Linked DNA regions of Homo sapiens. The protein of the gene in region 4 interacts with the protein of the main gene of each other region in a biochemical or structural test. Each region holds a gene or a part of one and is shown on either strand. Other genes may lie near its edges.

Region 1 (3,500 bases), on a different chromosome or scaffold from region 4:
AAAGAAACTGTGCTGCTTCACCTCAAAAGCGCCGCCTGGGACGGAAGGGATTCCAGCCACAGCTGATGGCCAACCCAGCAGCCCAGCCCCGCCCCCCATGTCTTCCGCCCCGGGGCCACAGCACAGGCTGGGCCTGGGGTTTTGGAGGCCTGCTCTCTATCAGTGGGCCCTCAGCTCCTCTGCATGGCGGACTTACCTGCCCCAAGCCTGACCAGAGGGTTGGTCTGCAGGAGGCTGGATATGAGGAGTTGGGCCTCCGTAGGTAGGGCCTCATCCCCCTCGGGCCACAGGATGTCATCTGCAAAACAAAACGGAACTTAGGGGCGGTTTTTGTTGTTGTTGTTGTTTGGACACAGGATCTCACTGTGTCACCCAGCTGGAGTGCAGTGGCACGATCATGGCTCACTGCAGCCTTGACCTCCTGAGTGCAAGCGATCCTCTGGGGGGTCGCTTTTGAAATCCCTGGAACCCTGAGCCTGTCCATCTCTCCGTGCACACCACACTCTGCCCCTGTACACTGCCAAGCCACGTACCACTGATGACCTGTCCAAATAGCTCCTCTGGTGTGTCTCCGAAGAAGGGCACACAGCCCACCAGGAACTCGTAGAGGATGATCCCCATAGCCCACCAGTCCACTGGCTTGCCGTAGCCTTGACGCAGGATGACCTCGGGCGCGATGTACTCTGGGGTCCCACACACCTGGGGGCAGGCTGTCAGCCCACGCCCCAGCCAGAGGAGGGCCCTCAAGGGAGAGCTGTGCCCCCCACCAGGCCCTGGGTTCCCGAGGTCCTGCAGGGTCACTCCACCCTCAGCGACCCCCATGCCCGCACACACACCTGTTTGTCCAGGAACTCTCGGGCGTCCTTCTCGATGTGGCCTTCATATAAGTTGGTGGTGAGGCTCATGAGCCCCATCTTGGAGAGGCCGAAATCTGTGAGCTTGATGTGACCCATGGAGGTGATAAGGAGGCTGTAGGCACAGGTGGGGATCTCAGGGATGAGGCCCGTCCATTCTGCCTCCTGGCCTCCCGAGGGACAGAGGGAGTGATGGGAAAGATCAAAGCTCACTTGTCAGGCTTGAGGTCGCGGTGCACGATGCCATAGTTGTGCAAATACTCCAGGGCTAGCACCGTCTCAGCAAAGTACATGCGGGCCATCTCTACGGGCAGCGCTCCAATATTCTTCAGCAGGGTGGCACAGTCGCCGCCTGCAGGCCAGGAAATGGGCCCGCATAAAAAGGGAGGCATTCCTCTCTCTGGACATGCACCATAGCACCAACTTCTCATGTTATGTTGTACCCGTTTTATAGATAAGGGAAACTGAGGCTCTGAGAGGGGCCTCCCTCCCTCCAGGTCCTCTACTGGGTTCTTCTTGTCCTCTTAGCCATCCTCCAAAGTTGGTGTCATCAGCTCATCTTATACACAAAGGGATGGAGACTCAAAGAAAGGATGGGTCATGCAGGCAGTTGTTGGTAGAGGTGAGGTTTAGTTGGGGAACAAAGGCTACCCACTTATCAACTGCATCTGGAAGCACAGCCCTCTATCTCCTGGTGTCTGAACCTTGGAGCTGGAAGCCTTAGATGCAGATTCTTGGTCTTCACTAGATTTTTTTTTTTTTTTTTTGAGACAGGGTCTTACTCCATTGCCCAGTCTAGAGTGCGGTGGCAAGATCACAGCTCACTGCATCCTCAACCTCCCAGCTCAAGCAATCCTCCTGCTTCAGCCTCCTGAGTAGCTGGGACTACAGATGTGAGCCACCATGCCCAGCTGATTTTTAAAAAATTGTTCAAGGCTGGGCATGGTAGCTCACGCCTGAAATCCCAGCACTTTGGGAAGCCAAGGCGGGTGGATCACTTGAGGTCAGGAGTTCGAGACCAGCCTGGTCAACATGGTGAAACCCCATCTCTGAAAAAAGAATACTAAAGTTAGCCTGGCTTGTTGGCAGACGGCTGTAATCCCAGCTACTCGGGAGGCTAAGGCAGAAGAATGGCTTGAACCTGGGAGGCAGAGGTTGCAGAGATCCAAGATCGCACCACTGCAGTCCAGCCTGGGTGACAGAGCAAGACTCCGTCTCAAAAAAAAAAAAAAAAAAGTTTTTTGTAGAAACGAGTTTCATTGTGTTGCCCAAGCTGGTCTCCAACTCTTGGGTTCAAAGGATCCTCCTGCCTCAGCTTCCCAAAGTGTTGGCCACTGCCTCTGCCCCTCTGCCAGATTTACTGTAATTGGCATTGGTATTTCAGTTTCTCAATATCTATTTCCTTTTTATCCTACAAAGGCTAGATTTCCTTCCATGTGCAGCAACCGGGGCAGTATGTAACCCAAGTTGCTCCAGTGAGTTAGCCCTTGGAATTTTCACTCTTTTCCTGTAAGAATTGCTAAGCTCATAGAATGTAAGCTGAGATCTGCTAGATGGCAACCTTGCTACATGAGGGCTTGTCTAGAAGGAAGCCCACATGTGGGAGTACAGAGCCAAGAGATGGAGAGTTTCCTGATGGAATGGTTTGAGCACCTACATCCAGCCATTCCTGAAGGTAATATTGGTTTTTCAATCACCAATGACCAAGAAAGCTAATGATTTCTTTCTTTTTTCTGTTCTCTTTTCTGCGAGATTTTGCTGGTTTCAGAAACTCTCTGAGGGTGGGGCCCAGGAATCTGCATTTGAGCACATCTATTGTGCACACAGACCCACCATAGAGATACTGATTTGGCCCCCTTCTCTCCTCCTCCTCTGCAATGAACCTGGACTAGAGCAGTCATCTACCTCCTAGTCTCCTGATTCTGCTCTCTCCACAAGAGCCAAATGGATTATCTTTTCTTAATTTTTTTCTTTTTCTCTTTTTTTTTTTTTTTTTTTTTTTGAGTCAGAGTCTGGCTCTGTCACCCAGGCTAGAGTGCAGTGGCTCCATCTCGGCTCACTGCAACCTCTGCCCACTCACCGCCCCCGGGTTCAAGAGATTCTTGTTCCTCAGCCTCCCGAGTAGCTGGGATGATAGGCGTGCACCGCCACTCCTGGCTAATTTTTGTAATTTTAGTAGAAACAGGGTTTCATTGGCCGGGCACAGTGGCTCACGCCTGTAATCCCAACACTTTGGGAAGCCGAGGCAGGCACATCACCTGAGGTTGGGAGTTCGAGACCAGCCTGGCTGACATGGAGAAACCCCATCTCTACTAAAAATACAAAAATAGCCAGGTGTGGTGGTGCATACCTATAATTCCAGCTACTCAAGAAGCTGAGGCAGGAGAATCGCTTGAACCCGGGAGGAGGAGGTTGCGGTGAGCCAAGATCACGTCATTGCACTCTAGCCTGGGCAACGAGTTTAGCCAGAGCGAAACTCTGTCTCAAAAAAAAAAAAAAAAAGGAAAAGAAAAAAACAACAACAACAGGGTTTCACCATGCTGGGTAGGTTGATCTTGGACTCTTGACCACAAGTGTTCTGCCTGCCTTGGTCTCCCACTGTAAGTGCTGGGATTACAGTCGTAAGCTACTATAATGGGCCTCCAA
Region 2 (3,500 bases), on a different chromosome or scaffold from region 4:
AGAAATGTAACTCTACTTTCTCTAGGACTAGAAGGTCTTGAATGGGCTCGAATTCTGCGACGATGCAGCTGACTGGCTGCTCTGGGAAGCATCTGCATCATCCCGTATTTCCCCACGTAGAAGTTGCTGGGCTCTTGTTCGAGGCCCCCTCTTCCCCCATCCCATGTTACAACAATGGCACACACTAAATCCTCTCAAAAACTCTTTGGGCTGGCACTAGGCCATTCCACTTCTACAGAGAGGTGGATTCATTTGCCTAAGATCACCCAGGTAGAAAGTGCAGGGTTGGGACTGGAAGCTGAGAAGGTGGGCTCTAGAACCACACCTATAACTGCATCCTGTCTTGAACCACACTGGCTTCAAGGGACTCACAGATTTCAGGGACTGTCAGAAAGAAGTGGCAGCTCACCAAGGAAACAAACATAAGCAGGTCTCACTCCAGTCTCCTTTGTTAATAACTTTTTTTTTTTGAGACGGAGTCTCACTCTGTCACCCAGGCTGGAGCACAGTGGTGCAATCTTGGCTCACTGCAACCTCGGCCTCCCGGGTTCAAGTTATTCTCCTGCCTCAGCCTACTGAGGAGCTAGGACTACAGGTGCCCACCACCATGACCGGCTAATTTTTTGTATTTTTTTTAGTAGAGATGGGGTTTCACCGTGTTAGCCAGGATGGTCTCGATCTTCTGACCTCATGATCCACCCGCCTCAGCCTCCCAAAGTGCTGGGATTACAGGCGTGAACCACCACGCCCAGCCTGTTAATAACTTTTTGTTCATCATGGGATGTAGGTTGTGATGGTGATGGGCAGAGACAACAGAAGCTACTGAAATAAATGGAAATTTAAAGGCTGGACCCAGTGGCTTACACCTGTAATCACACTTTGGGAGGTCAAGGCAGGAGGATCACTTAAGCCCAGGAGTTTGAAACTAGCCTGGTCAACGTAGCTTGTCTCTACAAAAAGTTAAAGAAAAAATGGCCAGGGCCAGGCATGCTGGCTCATGTGTGGAATCTCAGCACTTTGGGAGACCGAGGTGGGATGAATCACCTTAGGTCAGGAGTTCAAGACCAGCCTGGCCCACGTGGCAAAACCCCTCATCTCTACTAAAAATACAAAAATTTGCCGGGCATGGTGGCGGGCACCTGTAATCGCAGCTACTCAGGAGGCTGAGGCTGGAGAATCGTTTGAACCTGGGAGGCAGAAGTTGCAGTGAGCTGAGATTGTACCACTGCACTCCAGCCTGGGCAATAGAGTGAGACTCTGTCTCAAAAAAAAAAAAAAAAAAAAAAAAAAGAAGAAGAAAAGAAAAATTGGCCAGGCATAGTGGCGTGCACCTATAGTCCCAGAGGATTGCTTGAGCCCAGGAGTTTGAGGCTGCAAGTGAGCTATGATTACACCACTGCACTCCAGCCGGGTGACAGAGTGAGACCCTGTTTCTAAAAAAAAAAAAAAAGCCAGGCATGTTGGCTCATGCCTGTAATCCCAGCACTTTGGGAGGCCAAGGCGGATGGATCACCTGAGGTTGGGAGTTCGAGACCAGCCTGACCAACATGGAGAAACCCCATCTCTACTAAAAATACAAAATTAGCTGGGTGTGGTGGCATGGGAGGCTGAGGCAGGAGAATCGCTTGAACCCGGGAGGCAGAGGTTGTGGTGAGCCGAGATCACGCCATTGCACTCCAGCCTGGGCAACAAGAGTGAAACTCCCTCTCAAGAAAAGAAAAGAAAAAAAAAAAAAGAAAAAGAAAATATTTGTGAAAGCATGCTTCTGTGACAGCAAACTCCTGCCAACCTGGTTTCTGTTTCCTTTCTGCCACCCTGAGACCCTAAAGGGACACAGCCATGCCATCAACACCTCTGGCCTCCCTTGTTGGCCACCAGCCCCCGCTTACCTCTGCCGCTGCAGGGAGGAGGTCCTCTCGGGGACATAGCTGGCTCCCCCGTGGTGGCTGTCTCCGCCTCCCCCACTGCCTCCTCGGGCCCAGGGCAGAGCGCCGCCAGCTGCCGAGGAGCCCCCAAACTGCTGAAGCTTGGAGCTGAGTTCACTGATGATGCTGGCTTTTACTGTGGCCAAGGCTGAGGCCTGAGGCTGGGCCAAGGGCCCGGGCAGAGGTGGTGGCGGTGGGCCCGGGCCCTCCTCCCAGGGCAGCAGCTTCCGGGGCAGAGAGGAGGCCGTCGGCAAGGGCACCGGTGGGACTTCTGGCTCTACAGCCACCGGACCCCCCGCCACGCCTGCCGTGGGGGGTCCTGAACAAGCACGCAGGGCCAGCAGCCCATCGGTTCCAGCCCCTGTCACCGAGACGGTGGGGCTGGTGGGGGTAACAGGGTCTCGGAGTCCCCCGCTGGGGCCAGGCCGCAGGCCTCCGCTGGCTCCTAGCGCCCGGCCCCGGAGCTTAGAGGGAGTCATGAGCTGAGGAGGGTATGGCGGGCCGGGAGTACTGCTGCCCCCAAAGGCCTGGCCGTCCAGGTAGGCCACATAGGTGTCCAGAAGCTCCGGCCCACTGGCCACACCGGCCCCAGCCCCGCCCCCACCCCCTGCGCTGCCACCACCTTCGGCAGATAGGCTGCTCAGCGTGGAGGCGCTGCTGATGGTCTCCAGTGGGTGGTCACTGCTGCTCCGACTGTCCACCTCCTCGATGCCAGAATCCGTGCCAGGCGGAGGGTCCGGGCCAGGCTGTGGGGCAGCGGGAGCCGGTGCTGCTGGGGCAGGCGGGCCTGGTGGATGGGGGTCCCCAGGAGCGGCGGAGGCCCCCTGGGTCAGGGTGGCCACCTCGCTGTCATAGGATGTCAGGCTGGATGCGGTGGAGTCCAGGGTGGGAGGGGCTGCGGCCACAGCCGGGGGTGGCACAGGGGGTAACGGGGTGGCAGGGGCAGGTGTGTCGGGCAGCGGGTGGGGAGGCCCAGGCGTGAGGGGCGACTCTGGCTTTTCGAAGCTGTTGGAGAATTCCAGAGGCGGAGGCAGCGGTTCCACGAAAAGGAATTCGCCATCTTCCACATCCACCGAGGGGGCGGGAGGCGGCAGGACCAGCAGGGGCAGCCCGTTCTCTTCGCTGGCCCTCGGGGAGGTCGGGGAGGGGGGCACGGACCGGCGTGGGCTGGGCGGCGGGACCCCCGGCCCGTCCTCCGAGGGGGGACCCCTTCCGCTCGTCACAGGGGCCCGGGGCTGGCAGTTTTCAAGGAACCGCACGTGCAGCGGCAGCCGCTCGGGTTCTTCGGGGGCTGCGGACCTCCAGGGCTTGCTTACTCCGGGGTGCGGGGCCGGGGGCTCCGTCCCCAGCTGCAGCAGGAGGGGCCCCACCCCGGGAGCGGTGGGCGGCAGGCGGTGTAGCAGGGAACGCCGGGCGGCGGGCGGGCTGGCGGGAAGGGACTTCTCCTGGCTGCCCAGCCCGGCCCTGTACCCCAGCTCCCGGCGCGCAGGGTCCGGCGGGGAGGCCCCCCAGAGACGCAGCACTGGCTCGTGGTGGGCGTGGGGCGAGTGGTGGTGCGGGGTGGGCGGCGGGGCC
Region 3 (3,500 bases), on a different chromosome or scaffold from region 4:
CTACAGGAAACCCTCAATACATGTTACCTAATGCTACTGTCTGAAAATGTGTCCCAGAATCTCTCTAGCCAACATAAAAACACATTTTATGATGTAACTCTTTACATCATAAATTGAGGAGTATTTCAGTCAATAAATGTTTATAAATAAATTAACGGTCAGATGTATTCCAAGTGGAAATGGACCTGACATTTTATTTTTCTTTGCAGATCTTATATTGCACTTTAAACACACCTAAAATTGACATGGAAAGACTCTTAGGAGGACAACTAGGACTAGAAGATTTCATATTTGCCCATGTGAAAGGAATCGAAAAAGAAGTGAATGTGTATAAATCTGAGGATTCACTTGGTCTCACCATTACAGATAATGGTGTTGGCTATGCTTTTATAAAGGTAAGTTTTAAAAAATAACAGTGTAACCTAATTGAGGATAACATTTAAGAAAATCTACCAGGCCAAAGAAAGTTAGAAATGATCTTCAGAGTGAGAGCCCGCTCAGCAAGGATGCATGAATTGGTAATGTTTCACTTTCATTTTAAAAATGTTCAGATGTCAGTTTGTGTTTACTATTTTCTTAATTTCTTCCCTTTAGTTTAAACTTCCCCTAGAATTTAGAACTAACTGAAAGGAAAGTCTAACCCTGGTGCCTACTCATTATCCATATAAGCTTTTCCATGTCTGTAGGTTTTAACATCTGATGAATTTCTGGCTTATTTCCATTGAATTAGTGTTATTTTCCAACTGTTCCTAGTTTTGACTGCCTTATTTACTTCTTTAAAAATGCCCTTCAAAATTTTAGGAAGTATATAAAGTTGGATCTCTGTATCTGTAGGTTCTGTATTAGTGGATTCAACCAACCACAGATTAAAGGTAGTTGAAAAAATGGCATCTGTACTGAACATGTATGGCCTTTTTACTTGTCATTATTTCCTAAACAATACAGTACAACTGCTTATGTAGCATTGCCATTGTGTTAGGTATTATAATCTAGAGATGATTTAAAGTATATAGAAGGATGTGGATAGGTTATATGCAAATACTACACCATTTTATACCAGGGACTTGAACATCAGTGGAATTTTAGTATTGATGGTGTGTCCTGGAACCAATCCCCCATGGATACCCAGGGCCAACTGTAATTCCTTTATTCAAATACAAAGAGAGCGATATAGAGCTTCAAAGGCAAGATAAAAGTTTGAAATGGTGTGAAACTAAGAACTGAGGAGAAAGGTAGTCTCATCTCTTAAAAATAACAACTCTATTATTGTAATAGTTATAATAGTAACAGACTTATATTGAATGCATGTACTAGGCACTTTGCATACAATTTCTCACTTAATTCTCACAATTCTATTTGGTTGGTATTATGTTTTTTCTTTGTATTTATTTTTTTGTTGCAGTATAAGACATTTTTAATGTACAGCTTAATGAATGTTTACATACTTATCCCTGTTTAACCATCACCCAGATCAGGATAAATTGCATTTCTGCCACTCAGAAGGCTCATTTGTGCCCCTTCCCAGTCAATAATCTTTCCCCGCAAAGTAGCCATTATTCTGGCATCTATTGCCATGAACTTCATATAATCATATATTATATACTCCACTATTTTCGGCTTCTTTTGCTCAAAAAGATGCCTATGAGATCCATGGATAGGTACTATTTCCAACCTTATTTTACAGATGTGGAAACAGGCTCAGGAAGGTTAAGTAGCTTGCCCAAAGTTATACAGCTGGACACATTCAGGATTTGGATCTATGAGGTCTGACTTCAGAGCTGGCACTTCTATTCACTCGATTAAGAATTAATGATAGATTTCATGCAACAGGGAATATTTTGTGCCTTTATTTTGTCCAAATCTTGATTTGCTGATGCATTGTCACCATTAAATAATCTTAGGGAAGTTATCTTCTTAACTGTAAATGGGACTTTCGCTACCCACTTGATAGAATGGCTATTTTTAGCTCTGCAAAAGATATGACTGTGCTGAAGGTTGAGTGAGTGACCAAATGGAAAATCTGTGACTGGGAAAGTCATATGGGATTATCCAAGGGAAGCTCAGGACATGAGGCACAGGCAGCAGAGAAGGGCTTGGAAGTTTCACAAACGTGTGTGGATTTTTAAAATCTTAGCCTCTGACATTCAGAGCTTGTCTTTCTATTTTTTAAAAAATGCTTTGTCAAACATGTGCCTGACTCAGAGTACTAGTCACTAGCCCTGTGGAGATATAGGGCATGTTAGCAAAGGAGAAAGCAAGGCATAATCTAAACTGCCAACATATAGTTCAACTTAGAAGAGAGATGCACATTATACTGTATACATGGTTGATGAAATTTTTTAAAAATTGGGAGAGGATAATTTCAAACTTACATAAAGATTGCAATAATAATACAAAGAACTCCCATAAATCATTTATCCAAATCTCCAATTTTTACCATTTGCCATGTTTGAGTTTTTTGTTCTGTCTCATACACACACATATATATATATATACTCTTTACCCCTTAGTACTTCAGAGTGTAATTACTAAGAACAAGGATATTCTCTTACATATAACTACAGTACAATTATGAAATTCATACAGTCTAATATTGATATAATACTTTTAAACTAATCTATAGTTCACATTGTAGTCTTATCAGCGTCCTAATTGTGTTCATTATTTTCCCCTCATACAGGTCCAATTTAGGATCCTGTATTTCATTTATGTCTTTTTAGTCTTCTTTATAATCTAGAATAGTTGTCATGTCTTTTTAGTCTTCCTTAATCTAGAATAGTTCCTCAGCCTTTTATAGGATGTCCCTGAATTTGGGTTTTTCTGATGTTTCCTCATGTTGATAAATAGATTGTGCATTTTTGGTAGGAAAATTACATAAGTGATGCTGTGTCCTTCTCAGTGCACCACATCAGAAGGTACATGAAACTGGTTTGTCTCATTGTTTGTGAGATTAACTTTTGTCACTTGTCTGAGGTAGTGTCCACTAGTCTTTTTCACTACAAAATTATTTTCCTTTGTGATACGTAATTGTGGAGAGATGCTTTGATATCATGAAAATACCCTGTTTTCTTACTTGCATGGCACAAATTTAGTATCTGTTGATGAGTCTTACCTGAATTAATTTTTCCTATAATGGTTGAAAAAATGATGATTTTTCTAATTCCATCACTCCTTATATGTTTCTCTGAAAGCATTTTATGGTAGGGAAAAAGCTGCCCTTATTTATTGTCAACATGGGTACATGACTTCGTGTTTTACTGAATGGTTTATAGTCTGTTACTATCAATTATATTGATGCTCAAATTTCCTGAGACTTGGCCTGCAGGAACCCCTGTAAGTGGGCCCCCATGTCCTTTTGACATGGCTCCTATCATTTTATTGAGTAGGTTCTTACTTTCTAGAACACAACAAGATATTCTAGACCCATCTTGTATCTCCTTTTCCCCTGACCTAGAATCAACTATTTCTCTCAGAAGCTCTGATTTTTACTAGAGATTGAT
Region 4 (3,355 bases):
CAGGATATCAGGTTAAAAAAAAAAAGTTACTGGCTGGTTTAATACTTTCTACCTTCTTCACAGAGCAGCCTTTGAATAGACTATGTCCTAGTGAAGACATCAACCTCCGCCTTAAGCTATGTATGTATGGAGGCCAGTCGCAGCTTTATTATGCAGACACACAAGTGGTCTGGACATGAGGGTACAGTTTCTGCCTACCAAGACACTACTTGCACTGGATCTTACGCAAAAAAGAACCAGAACACACAGTGTGGACAACTGCCCATATATTCTATCTAGATTAGGAGAGGGTCCTGGCTAGGATTTTAGTGGTAATTCCTAGTTACATTCAACAAGTATAAAGATTATAGAGCTTATTTTATGAACTATAAACTATAATTTAATGCAAAATATCCTTTTATGAATTTCATGTTAATATTGTGAAATATTAAAATAATTCCACAATAGTTGAGAAAAATGAGCATTTTTTTCCATTTTTAAAAAATGCATAGAAAAGACAATTTTAAAATCCTGGGACCATATTTATTTAGAAGTAGCTGTTAGTAAAACATTAGAAAAGGAGTCAGGCCATTAGGTTATTTATCCAAATCTCTAAGCAATTAGGTTGAAGTTATTAAGTCAAGCCTAGAAAAGCTGCCTCCTTGTAAGGCTTTCATGACAATGTATAGTAATCCACAGTGTCCAATTCTTCACACTCCTCAGGAATATCACTACCTCAGGTTACGGTACACAGGCTATAATTGATGATGATGTTCAGATAACTGAAGACACAATAAATGACATTCAGACATCAGGACAATTCCCTCATGTTCTTTTCTATGATGGCCACCTGTACCAGCAACGTGGGTTTCACCCACACAACGATGAACTGTTCTCTTACTTCTCCAGTTGATTTTAAAGACTTGTTAAGAGGTCTTACTAATAAAATTTGGGTATGATAGAAAATCCACAATCAAATCTTGAACCAAATAACATATTAAATTACTAATATTTAAGTGATGGAAGACACACAAAAAACTTAAAAGCACGAACAACCTAACTTGAAAAAGAATTTTAAAATATGATTAACCTGAAGAAAAGAGAATCCTAAGAGCCAAAGCTCCTTTTTATTTAGCTTGGAATTTTCCTATTGGTTCCTAACAAACTGTCCCAATGTCATATAAGGAAACATGATCTATTACATTCCTTTATAACAATGTGGAGAGACTATAAACCTATGTAAGTAGTAAAACTATATCAGAGACTCAGGAGACTGACTAAAAGGCCTGGATCTGCAGTGTATTATCTGTATAAAAATTGGCAGGGGGAAGCTAAAAGGAAAGGAGATTGGAGATCTCAATTCTATCATGGTGTATTTCATACGCAAATCAGAGCATGCATTGTTTTTTGTTTTTGGAAAGAGAAGGGAAGTGTGTTCTGCCCCATGTTTCCTTCCGTGTTTATAGTTCAAACTCTATATATACTTCAGGTATTTTTTGTTTAGCCCTTCATTATAAATGGGCAGGAAATTGTTTATCAACCTAGCCAGTTTATTACTAGTGACCTTGACTTCAGTATCTTGAGCATTCTTTTATATTTTTCTTTTATTATCCTGAGTCTGTAACTAAACAATTTTGTCTTCAAATTTTTATCCAATATCCATTGCACCACACCAAATCAAGCTTCTTGATTTTCAAAAATAAAAAGGGGGAAATACTTACAACTTGTACATATATATTCACAGTTTTTATTTATAAAAAAAATTTACAGTACTTATGGAGAGCCAGCAGAAGACATCAGAGCACTCACTTCTTCCCATCTTTGTTAAGGTTAGCGAATTACCCATGGACACTGTTAGGTGAGGCTCATTCGGCAGCCCTGAAAACAAACCTGGTCACACTGTCTTTACCCTCTCCCTTCAGATAAAGCACTTCGATTATCTATTGATCTGCCCAGTTTTCAAGTCATGCGAATACTAAAAAGGTTACATCATCTGGATCTGTACCTTGGCTATATAAGCATGTTTTCCCCCTATTCTATGTTTCTTTTTTTGGTGAACATTGAAAAACAGGAGGTGACTTATTACTGTTAATTAAAACTAAATGAAAAATGTCAAGTCTTTAAAACAGTGAGCTTGTAACTCTTTCATGTAATTTTATTCTCTATGAATTTGGCTATCCTACTGAATCTTAAAATAAAGGAAATAAACACTTTTTTTTTAAAAAAAAGGAAAAATACAAGTCTAAAAATCTCAATGAAATATTTCACAAGAAGGAAAAATGTAAGTTAGCCTTTGCTTTCCACTTTGGAATAAGCAGGAGGTTAGGGAAGGCATTGAGAAGAAAAAAGATAAAAATAATATGTGTTGTTCAGTGCAGTGCCTAAGCTAGGTTTTCAAGATTTTATAATACAGTAAGGAAAATGTACTATATATGGAGATTAGGATGTTGCAATTTTTCCACAAAGGTTTAAAAACATTTTGGAAATACAAGTTTTTGTGGAACATTGTGTTGGAATATTGTCCCCATTAAGTTTCTCCTGAGAAGCTAATTGGACTCTCCACTCAGCTTTATTTCTAGGTATAATCACTGTTGGTTACACTAAACTCCTAAACCTAAATGACAGGGCACAACTACAGCTTGATCCTGTATTACCACATCAGGGCTCCTGGGTGAGCCAGAGACACTGTTTCATAAATGCATATTTATTATAACTTTAAGAGTAGCAATCTCATATACTGAATAGTCACTCTTTAACTCCATTAAATAAGATACAGCAAGGGGAAGGACAGTATCACACAAAATGGCTTTCAAATTCAAGTGGGGCTATTTGATAATTACACTGTGGCACAGAGGCAGCTTATGGGCACTTCTTGTTAAAACATCTCCATGTTACCAACTTCTGACAAGACTCTTAGTATAGGCTTGGGCATCAACCCAAGATTAAAGTCAAGAACCTCAATCACTTCTCTACAACTACAGGTGTTGAGTCTTTCCAGAAAAACAAAGGTCCAAATGAGGCACCATTCATCACAGCTTCTTTCTCATTTCCATCTAGTGGGTAAGAGGTTTCTCTTCTTAAAACTACAATTTCTTAACCTTTACAAGTTATTTAACATTTTCTATCATATTAAATTAGCAACATAAAACATTATCCTTTATCTATAAACTTCTAGTCTGGTTCCCTAGAGTTTATATACACGTTTTTATTTCTAATCTGCAAGAAAAAAAATTCCTATTTGTTATTTGGTAACAGAGCATTAAAAGATACTATACACATGTGGTGCATATATATATATATATATACACACACACACACACACACACACAAAATACACTTCAAAAAGAAGCCAACACACTTTAGCCAAAGTCTTAAG
Region 5 (3,500 bases), on a different chromosome or scaffold from region 4:
GCAGGAGAATGGGAAGAGAGCAGAGGGCTTTTCTGCTTCTCGTTTCTCTTCTCAGGCCCACCCCTCATTCCTCCCTTCTGAACAATCAGAGACTCAGCTTGGCAGTCAAACACTCTTATTTTTCTTTCATGATTTCCAATTTTCCTCTTCACCTTCATATACCCAAAGCTCCAGAGTGAACTGCTTACCATCCCCTTCTGACCCAGAATGCCTTTTCCTCTCTACTGAAGTCTGGCCAAATTCAGGCTTCCTCTTGCCTCTTTCCTTAACCCCTTCTCCTCCCTATACTTACCCTGAAGCAAGCAGTGCTACCTTCTGTCTCCAAACTCCACAGCAATAGGCCTGAACCTGTCTCATGGCTTTGCTTCATTTTGTTGGGTAGCTTGTTTCATCCTTCAAGGACGGAAATCACATCTTATTCAGCCCTGCTTCCCCTAGCATCTATCACAGGGGTAGCACCAAGCAAACGCGTGGTAAATATTTTCCAGTGGTGTACTATTTAGTTTACCAGACAAATTCTAGTACATGACAGAGTCCTCAGGAATTTTAGGCTAAAAGACACATTGATTTTCAGAGGATCTCTAAGGTCCCTTACGTGAGTAGGATTTCACAGTTCTCTAATACATACCATTAAAGTAGCATTAAAGATTCTTCCACCATATGTCTTGAGTTCTCCGAGGATCTGTAGATAATTTAAACGTAGCTGGGCAGCAGAAATAAGTTGCTTAATAGAGAAAAAAAAACACTTGAAGTCAGAGTTATTCATTGGTCTAAAATCCAGGCAGTGTTGAAAATGTTTTTCCTAAGGTTTCACAGACGACAGCTGAGTGGGTCGGCAGAGGCACCTTCATTACCTTCTGTCGGGGTTCCAGCAAATTCTGGTTCCTCTTCATGTGGAAGCTAATGGCTTTCTTGATGTCTTTGCCTTTCATGTTTCGGAGTAAAGTTGGAGATATAAAGTTCTCTATTCCCCAGTCTTTCCTGCCATGAGACATTGGAGACAAGGAGGCCCATTTCTACAGGGTACTTGGCTCTAATGAAGAGCATAATTACATTTGATTCAGTACTTAGTGTTCCCATAATACAGCAATTACGAGCCACTTTCTCCTCCTCTCTTTTTCTTTCTCACACACACATACACACACTCTCCACAAAAATCCCCACAGGCATTCAGGAACTAAACCCCATTGATCATTCTGGGAGCTCATTACTCTTGGTGTGGTGTGACCATCTATCAGTCAGAGCAGGAGTTCTGAATCTTTTTCACTACAAAATACATGGCAAATAATGACAGCATACAAGAGAGTACAAGACACTCTCATGGGGCAACGCAGAGCTCCTGTGAATCCCCTAGGCTAAGCTTCAGCATGGTGCCAGCCTAGCAGCTTCAAAATCCCCCAGAAAATTGCTAAAACTACAGATTCTCAGGCCCTGCTGCGAGAGATTGGACTTAGTACATCAGGGGTAGGGCCAAGGATATGCTGTATTTTTAAAAATATGATTCCCCATCTGATTCTGATGCTCAGGCAGGACAGAGCTGAGATCTGGGGAGGGGCTTAGCAAACCTGAGTGATGCTGTCCAGAACAATTCTAAGCTAAGAATCAGAAGGTGCTGGAATCGTAGGACTTGAAACTGCTCTAGTGGAGACATAATGCAATAGGAACTGGTTCATATCCACGGGAAAAATTAACTTCCAAGGCATTCCCACCCCTAGAAAAGCTTAACACTGATGCTGGCAACTGATTTCCCAAGACATCTTCCCAGGAACAGGCAATTTACAAGGGAATCCTGTGACATTCCATCTGGAGTTGGCTTCTGTCCCAGAGAGAGCAGCCAGGTTCAGACATCTGGGGGAGCCAGGTCAGATTAGAGAGGGTGCAGAGGGAAATGGATGGAAAGACAACAGACAGATGGGTAGGTGGGTGACTATCAGCTTTCTGTGGCATCTGGCCCTCCTGGCCAGGGGCCAGCAAGTTATAAATGCAATGCAGCTGCCATCCCCTGCCACTCACTCTATATACTTTAAAGAGATCTTCTGTGGCTGGGCACAGGCGTAGATCCGTTCCTGGATGTGCAGAGCCGCGAGTCGGAGTGCAGAGCTACATTTCATTTCTACAGCAAAGCGCTCCTGGAGCACATCGCTGCAGCTCTAGAAGAGATTAAATAGAGCAGATGGGAAACAAAAGCAGACATACTGTGTCCCCTCGTTCTCTCGGGTGAAAGGCAGCAGGACCAGGAGCTCCGCTTTGAGAGCTGGCTCTGACAGTTCTTGGCTGTGTGACCTTGGTTAAGTTACCAAGACTCTCCAAGCATTTGGTGTCTGGTAAATGAGGATAGTAAAATCTACCTTATGTGGTTTCTGTGAGACTTAAATTAGATAATGCATATGAAAGCAGGTATAAGGCACACAGTGTTATACAAATATAAAGTATTGATGGCGTTGTTATTGCTATTATTATTATTTTCTGCCACCATTTCTGTAAGACTTGGGGCAGTCCAATCCACCTAGTCTGAGTTATCTCATCTGTAAAATGGTGATATCTGCCAAATGATTCTTTTTCTTTTTTTTTTTCTTTTCTGGAGACAGAATCCCGCTCTGTCACCCAGGCTGGAGTGCAGTGGCATGATCTTGGCTCAATGCAAACACCACCTCCAAGGTTCAAGTGATTCTCCTGCCACAGCCTCTCAAGCAGCTGGAACTGTAGGTGTGTGCCACCACGGCTGGCTAATTTTTTGTATTTTTGGTAGAGACGGGGTTTCACCATGTTGGCCAAGCTGTTCTCAAACTCCTGACCTCAAGTGGTCCACCTGCCTCGGCCTCCTAAAATGCTGACATTACAGGCGTGAGCTACCGCACCCGGCTCCAAATGATTATTTTTCATCAGAATAAAAATGGCATCATAACTCTCATCTAAGGAGGTAGAATAGGGGGAGCACCAGGCCACGGATCAAGAACCAGGTTTTGGCTCTGCCACTAAGTGAGTGACCCAGGCAAATCACACGACCTTTCCAAGACTCAGTGTCATCATTCTAAAACGAGGTTTTAAAGCACTAAGGCCCCTTTTGGCAATAAAAACTGTAATTCTAAAGATCCTAAAATGGTATTAGAAAATGTATCATCTACATTGAGGACTGAGCCTGAATTTCATTCTGATATCGCACACCTGCTAAAACAGCAACTCAGTGATGGAAAAGGGAATTCTGAGCGATGATCAGGCCCATTCTCCTTCAGATAAAGAGAATCCCTACCAGGGAGTTGTTTAATGGCCTCGAGCTCACGTTCAAAATCACCCAGTGCACCATCTTTGAGAACAACCACTGTTATTTTAGGAAGCACAGACCCAGTCACCTGCAGATAGAGGTATTCAAAGGCCACGGGGTCTTCTTTCAGGAGGTCCAGGGGGTCCTTGGGAACAAAACAGACCCTGAAGAGGCAGCGGTAGTCATGTGACTCCTCCCTTTCTACCACCTGCGATGGGTAAGGGAGATACTATTAATC
Region 6 (3,500 bases), on a different chromosome or scaffold from region 4:
ACAGAGGCCTTATGGCCTGTGAAGTCTAAAATGTTTACTATGTAACTTTTATAGAAAACATTTGCTGACCTCTGGTGTAGAGATCCTAGTTTAGAAATCTTTATAAATGTGGTAATAATTTATCTTAAATTTTTCATATTAAAGTAGACCAGATTTCACAATATTTATCAGTTAGAATAAACTTTCTCAAAGATTTCCACGTTGCTTGATTCTAAATAGAAATTTAGAGTTGATTTTTTTTTTTAATTAACCTTTGCTAGGTGATTATTCTTACTCCCCAAATTACACTTTCAGAGGACAGAGATCAAGGGCTAGTCCTACTCTCCCAACCTGTCTACAATGTGCACAGCACTCGAGGCACTTTCCAAAACACAACCTTTTTGATTAACCTATAGCCAGAATTTCAAAAATTATCTCCCCTATATAAGTAGCAGATGCACTTTGAGTTCTGACTGGAAAGATACATAATGATAAAAAGTTACTTGAATTTAGTAACACTTTAAAAATGAACACCCATACATCTTTCAACATAGTGCTTATTTACATATTCAGAATAGAGAATATGTGCTTGGCCCACATATTCTTTTATGGATAACTCTGCAATTACCCCATGGGAGGTCCAAGGTCAAGGTGGGGAGCACTCCTTGCAGTGGCCACTTGGCTTGGGTTTTGTGTTATGAACACAGACAATGATGCTTACCCAGGGCCATGTTGACTATGATCTCCTATCCCTGAAGCGTGCTCTGTCTTTTCCAATGCCCCAGTGGATTCAGGGACTGCCAGGGCCTGAGAGGAACACCGTTCATCCTGTAGAGCTGCAGACATGGAGTCAACAGAACAATTGCTCACGATGCTGGACCGTGAAGAAATCTCACTATGGCTGGAGTCAGACAAGTTGTCAGATTTAGCTGATGGAATAAGTGTGTAACCTGAACAAGAAAAGAGCACTGATCAAACTACAAAAAAAGGGAACATATGGTGGGGGTAGTAGGGGAAAGGATGAAAAAAAAAAACCCCACAAAAATAACAGAAGACAAAGTAGAAGCAATTTTAGTTTCCATCTATGTAGATATAATGGTGCCAATTTTCTCCACACATTCCCCTACATAACCATTTGCCTACTATCCACACCACACCAATACAACTACACATTCAAGAAAAAGACAGTCAAAGTCCAGTGTTACTCAGAAAACTAGTTTAAAGGTATATCTTTCTCAGGCTCTCCCACAGCTATAATCATTTAATAAAATAAGAAGATTACAAATATTAATAAGTACATGTCTTTAGGGTTTCTCAACTTCTTTTTAACCCAACGCTCCTTCCTTTGATTAATATGAATATTTCTTGACCTGATCTGAATCCCAAATACCATCTTGAAGTAAGGGTAGGGGTGGGAGTCCAGGACTCAAGGGAAAGAACTACATTTTTGCTTTATCAAACTATATATACTTACCCCATATATTCTGCATATCCCACCTAAGAAGTCTTGTCTTGAGTTGAGAGTCACTGTTTTAGATTATTTTTATTTTTTAGACACAGGGTCCTGCTCTGTTGCCAGGCTATAGTGCAATGGCACGATCATAGCTCACTGCAGCTTCGAACTCCTGGGCTCAAGTGGTCCTCTTGCCTCAGCCCCAAGTAGCTGGGACTACGGTCTGCACCACCACACCCAGTTATTTTTAAACTTTTTGCAGAAATGAGGTCTCATTATGTTGCCGAGGCTGGTCTTCAACTCCTGGCCTCAAGCGATCCTCCCGCCTCAGCCTACCAAATTGCTGGGATTACAGGTATGAGCCACCATGCCCAGCCTGTTTCAGTTTTTTAAATTGTTTTAGGTTTAAACTTAGTGTCATACTTAGTTTCCTTTTTCTTCACCAACCTTGCAGAATATTAAACAGCTGAGTGGATACATGTTTAATAATGTGTTATAGAAAAAAACAGCATCTACATGTTCTATGTTGTTCTGTGACTTACTGCACAGCAGACAACTAGAGAGATGTTCTTCTGTATTCTAGGGACGCACTGAGGTGAAGGACCCAAAAACAAATCTGCAACAGAATGGCTAATGTACATAATAATCTATTTTGATAACTGGAAGAAACCAAATTTTTGTTTAGAAATAAAAGAAAAAGAAAATGCCCTAGTAATCCCAACAAGGGACGGGTCTCAAAGAAGTAAAAAATATCTTCTTGCTCACAGAGGAAAGTAGGGTTTAGTAGATATGTGACCTTTGGACCAATACCTAGAAATGTCATTAGGAAGAATTACAGGCTTTGGGTATGTTACTGGAATTCTCAGGGCCTCATCTTCATGCAGAAAGAGGATGACAACATCCTTAGTTCCAAGTCTTTCTCTGTTTATGGATCTTGGAGTTATTCACATATAACTCAAGTCATTTAAGGAATAATTTGTTGCACAGTAATCTTATTAAGTCGTTTCGTTAACTATTTCAAAGAGAAAAAGGCCTAGAAAATGTGTGATTTATATTTGGCCTACGTGGACAGGAACAGGGTAAGCCAAGACAAGCCAGTCTTCTGACGTCTATCATACATCTCTGAACTTGGGATCACTGCTATTTGTCAATGTCCATGAGCTGATTAGTCAATTTTTAAGAGGACCAAGAAAGTGGATGTAATAAGTAAATTAAAAATAAATAAAAACCTTCTTCTTGAAAAGAAAAAGTCATTGCTCTACACAATAATCTTGCTTCATTGTTTAAAAAATAATTTCATTCTTATGTCTATTTGATCAGTATTTCTCAAATATAATAATACTAAGAACCACCTGGCAAGCCAATTAAAATAAACATTCCAGATCCCATTTCTGGCAATTCAAGTTTATGAAGTCTGGGGTGGGACACAGTAATTGCATTTTTTAACAAGTTTCCCAGATGATTCTGATATTGCTATGTTAGACTAGTCCCTTCTCCCCCAATCAAAGATACGTAAAAAGTAGAAGATAAAAAAGCCTCCTCTACATATTTCACTCACAGATCCAGCTAACAGTAGGAAATAAAGTCAACTACAGAAAACAAGAGTATAAAATTTACTAACTCAATACATCAGTAAAATAACTTATGTACAAATGAGGCATTTTCAAGTGTTTATAAATAGTATTTTACTAAGTTGTCTGCCTAAGCTTTGACAAATGGTTTAATTTAAGCCATGTATACATTAATAACTGAAAACAAACTTAACACTAAAATTAAATAAGGAACTTCATCAGAGTGTCTTCCTCCTTTTAGACTTGAATCGCGTATAGAAGCAGTTTAAAGTGTTACTGTTGCCTTGGCTATTTGAATTGAAGATGGCACTCCCTTTCTCATCTTTGATGTTGCTTCCAACATCCTTCACTTTCTCACAGCTTTCTGTAGCTTGATTGTGATCTGTGTCCTCTTTTTGGCTGTTGACTAGTCTCTCCCTTGAAAGCATTCTTTCCCTAAGTCTTCTAAACGGGGATGTCATTCTTTTTCTGGTTGTGTTCTCACAACTTGTCCTGTC
Region 7 (3,500 bases), on a different chromosome or scaffold from region 4:
ATAGAAATGATTGTGTTTTCCTAGCTTTCAAAAAAGACTTTCTAAAATAAAAACTTACTGACATCTATAAAAACCCATTTCAATATCATCATAACTTTGCTTATTGAGCTTAAAGCAGTAAAACAGAGACTCCTTGGAAATACAAGTTGATGACTTTTTAACCATCAATCACCAAATATATATATTATATTTTATATATATAATATATATATACTTCAAATGTAAAAACAGAAATAAAAGTTTATTCTCTGAGACCAAGTCCAAGAGCAGGCTATTTACTTTTAACATGTACATTGTATTCCGTTATATTCAATAAAGAAGTACTGACATGGTAATTGTTCAGCTAAACAAATATGACAATTTGTTTGCAACAAATGTTAGAATGAATTGTATATGACTTCACTCACTAATTATTTAGTATAGACTATTTATCTTATGCCAAATTCTGTAAACCATACTTGAAAATATATTTCTGAAAGAACAGTTCTGGCAGAAAACCCTTCTCATCTCTTTGCCAGGAAAAAAAAAAAAATGGGAATGTTAACTTTGTTATCTAAAACTAAGGCTTAGATTTCTTCAAGATAATTTTCAGAGCTTAAGTACATAATGACCTAAATTACTCAGAAGCAAGGCAGCATACTTTTGATATATGTTTTTGCTGTAAAGAACTAAAGGTAGTCTATGATTTCTCATTATAATGCTCTCAGTCAAATCATAGGAAAGTTAGATTAAACTCAACTCCAAATTGATACAGCCTACCTCCATTCCTCTGACTACAACTAAATCCACTTATCTGGTTTTATTTCCATTTGGAAACAGATTAGTGAAGGTCATTAGCCATTAGGACCAGATGGCTCAAGTGTACTGTAAGGAAATACTAGGCATTCTCCTGTTGACTTGATTATCAGTTCACCAGCACACATTGGTTGAGGCTATACAAGTAGTATCACCCATTCTTTTTCCATACATTTTGAACTGGATATTTATGGAAGGCAAACATCACCTTAACAAGCAACTCTCCAGCTCCCCAAAAATATCAGGTCAACTTAGTGACCAAAGAATAAGCATGCATAATTTTTCCAAGTGCAACAAATTAGTAGGACAATTATGTCCACTTCTAATGGTCAGTTTCCAACAGTTCAAGAAGTAATTTGAGATCAGAAGTTTCAATAAAGATAAGGTCTATATTAACTGGTAATGTGCATTAGTGAATTCAAGTATTTATTATAATATGCTCAATTTGACGTGTGTGCCCGCATGTGTGCTGATAATGATAAAGAAGCGAAAACAGGAAAAGGCATTGTTTAACCCAGGGGTCAGTGAATTCAAGTATTTATTATAATATGCTCGATTTGACATGTGTGTGCCCACATGTGTGCTGCTAATGATAAAGAAGAGAAAACAGGAAAAAGGCATTGTTTAACCCAGGGGTCAGTTAACTTTTTCTGTAAAGAGCCAGAGAGTAAATATTTTAGGCTTTGTAGGCCATAAGGTCTCTGTGGCATCTATTCAACTTTGCTGTTGTCAGGCAAATGCAGCCATAGATAATACATAAATGAATGGACATGTGTTCCAATAAAACTTTATTTATGGACACTGAAATTTTAATTTCATATTATTCTTTTTTTGATATTTTTGAACCATTTAAAAATAAAGAAACCATTCTTTGCTCACAGGCTATGCCATAACAGTCAGCAAGCCAGATTTGGCTCATAGGCCACAGTATGCCAACCCCTGTTTTAGCCTATTCATAATTTTCTTTTCCTGCTATGATTAGCTTTCAAGATTAAAGATCATTTGATGGTAACAGTGGTAGATTTCAGGACGGTATGCTTAAACAAAGATTTTAAACGGTCTTGAGTTTTCTTATTGAGCCAAGTGTGAAACCAGTGGTTTCAAGTTCATTCCTTAAAGATACATTTCTAGTTCACCAATAATGTACATTCTCTTACAGCTAAACTTCCACGGTTAACCTCAAATGAAATAACAAAGTACTAAAGTTGAACAGTGTATGTGTATGTAAAGGGGGAGAATGAACAGCTGGAAGGACCATAAGCAGAAAGTGAGACTTTCCAGGTCATGCATTTAAAGTACAAGTAAGTTTCACTGCAGCTGTCAGTCTGTACCAAATTCTGATAGCAAGAAGGTGAAACTCACTTGCCCCAGACAATAAGAGAGAGAGAGAGAGATGCTTGAAATGGTACAAAGCCTGACCTAGACGCCTTCTTCCCAGAACTGCGAGCGACTAGACTTTCACAGCTTCAAACTAGCAACTCTTGGGAAACTAGAGTTAAATATTCCTAAAACAGGAATCTAGTTCTGTTATGAAACTGTTCATCATTTCACCTCCTGACAGTCACAAAAATCAGCAGAACTTAGAAAGGATTCAGAAGATGAGCAAGTAGCATTTTTAATAAAATTCAAATCCAGAGTCTTTGGGGTTTTTTCATTGCTAGCCTCCAGAGCTCACTATTATCAGCAATATTAATACAATTACTCAGTAAAAATAGGGGATATGGGAAAAACCCTGACCTTTTGCATTACTTCTTTAACTTCCCCTTTTCCCTGGGAAATATTTAATTCTGAATAAGATAAAGGTAAAAGACAGAAGTTTAGTAGTATCTAAATGGACTTGACATAAAAATCTAAGGAAACTATACATATGTATTTTGTATTTTTCCTCAAATATAAGATACTTGTAAGAAAATTAGCATTCTAATATTAGATATTAGTCACTGCTATATACCACAAAATAACCCATGCAACTATAAGAAAATGCAAAGTAAAGCATTCCCCAAATTTACCTACTACTATAAGAAATCATCATATCAACAGTGGGGACTCAATCATTATCATCAAGTCTACCGTTTTGCTTAAAGAAAAGAAGCCAAATCAGGGACTTAATCTATGAACATATCACTCAATTTAATAACATCCCTATGAGTTTTGGATCTCAAATCATCTCCCTCTGGCAAAAGGGGCATAATCATATGTTTTTCTACTGGACTGCATTCTTCTATAAACATTTGAAAGAATGCATCTGCTTTACAAATAAAATAGTCAATACAAAGAGCAGTAACAATAAAAATATATGCCTGTTTTTATACTATTACTGGTTTATAAGGCAATCATCTGTAATGCTCTCATCTACAAGGATGGAAAATAATATAGAACTGTTACCAAGGAAACAGTGAAGTAAAACTGCATGTAAACTATCAAGCAGTTTAAGAACCAGAAAATTAGAAGAACGGGAAAAACCATCTTCAGATAGAACCATGACACACTGTGCCACCCACGAAGGATGCAATCAAGGGTCATAACTCTAACTGATGATGTAAAGGGTGCCAACTACTTACCAGCAATTCCAACACTTGGCAGCAATTTTTTTTTAATGGTACTGGGTTATTGAGGGGCACTGTCAATTCTGATTTTTCCCACGATTAAAAGGGTATAGATTCTGGAAACGAATAGTTAAATGTAGACACTCTAAAAAGTCAAAA

What was found.
Region 1: the proteins of TBPL1 (region 4) and MAST1 interact in a test that uses a peptide from one of them, tested with the Homo sapiens proteins (one large-scale study listed by IntAct).
Region 2: the proteins of TBPL1 (region 4) and SHANK1 interact in a test that uses a peptide from one of them, tested with the Homo sapiens proteins (one large-scale study listed by IntAct).
Region 3: the proteins of TBPL1 (region 4) and GIPC2 interact in a test that uses a peptide from one of them, tested with the Homo sapiens proteins (one large-scale study listed by IntAct).
Region 5: the proteins of TBPL1 (region 4) and FRMPD1 interact in a test that uses a peptide from one of them, tested with the Homo sapiens proteins (one large-scale study listed by IntAct).
Region 6: the proteins of TBPL1 (region 4) and RAPGEF6 interact in a test that uses a peptide from one of them, tested with the Homo sapiens proteins (one large-scale study listed by IntAct).
Region 7: the proteins of TBPL1 (region 4) and FRMPD4 interact in a test that uses a peptide from one of them, tested with the Homo sapiens proteins (one large-scale study listed by IntAct).

What each region holds. Positions count from the first base shown.
Region 1 is NC_000019.10:12,862,515-12,866,014, reverse strand, and holds part of MAST1 (microtubule-associated serine/threonine-protein kinase 1), read right to left. Parts: intron 1,207-3,500; coding exon 1,068-1,206; intron 970-1,067; coding exon 837-969; intron 700-836; coding exon 534-699; intron 299-533; coding exon 197-298; intron 36-196; coding exon 1-35. UniProt on the Homo sapiens protein: Microtubule-associated protein essential for correct brain development. Appears to link the dystrophin/utrophin network with microtubule filaments via the syntrophins. Phosphorylation of DMD or UTRN may modulate their affinities for associated proteins.
Region 2 is NC_000019.10:50,664,303-50,667,802, forward strand, and holds part of SHANK1 (SH3 and multiple ankyrin repeat domains protein 1), read right to left. Parts: coding exon 1,890-3,500; intron 1-1,889. UniProt on the Homo sapiens protein: Seems to be an adapter protein in the postsynaptic density (PSD) of excitatory synapses that interconnects receptors of the postsynaptic membrane including NMDA-type and metabotropic glutamate receptors via complexes with GKAP/PSD-95 and Homer, respectively, and the actin-based cytoskeleton.
Region 3 is NC_000001.11:78,080,466-78,083,965, forward strand, and holds part of GIPC2 (PDZ domain-containing protein GIPC2), read left to right. Parts: intron 1-209; coding exon 210-395; intron 396-3,500.
Region 4 is NC_000006.12:133,987,578-133,990,932, reverse strand, and holds the end of TBPL1 (TATA box-binding protein-like 1), read right to left. Parts: 3' UTR 501-3,355; downstream 1-500. UniProt on the Homo sapiens protein: Part of a specialized transcription system that mediates the transcription of most ribosomal proteins through the 5'-TCT-3' motif which is a core promoter element at these genes. Seems to also mediate the transcription of NF1. Does not bind the TATA box.
Region 5 is NC_000009.12:37,730,954-37,734,453, reverse strand, and holds part of FRMPD1 (FERM and PDZ domain-containing protein 1), read right to left. Parts: intron 3,471-3,500; coding exon 3,351-3,470; intron 2,151-3,350; coding exon 2,014-2,150; intron 982-2,013; coding exon 855-981; intron 725-854; coding exon 629-724; intron 1-628. UniProt on the Homo sapiens protein: Stabilizes membrane-bound GPSM1, and thereby promotes its interaction with GNAI1.
Region 6 is NC_000005.10:131,432,730-131,436,229, forward strand, and holds part of RAPGEF6 (rap guanine nucleotide exchange factor 6), read right to left. Parts: coding exon of another isoform or gene 3,222-3,500; exon of another isoform or gene 3,032-3,221; intron 930-3,031; coding exon 701-929; intron 1-700. UniProt on the Homo sapiens protein: Guanine nucleotide exchange factor (GEF) for Rap1A, Rap2A and M-Ras GTPases. Does not interact with cAMP.
Region 7 is NC_000023.11:12,141,473-12,144,972, reverse strand, and holds part of FRMPD4 (FERM and PDZ domain-containing protein 4), read right to left. Parts: intron 1-3,500. UniProt on the Homo sapiens protein: Positive regulator of dendritic spine morphogenesis and density. Required for the maintenance of excitatory synaptic transmission. Binds phosphatidylinositol 4,5-bisphosphate.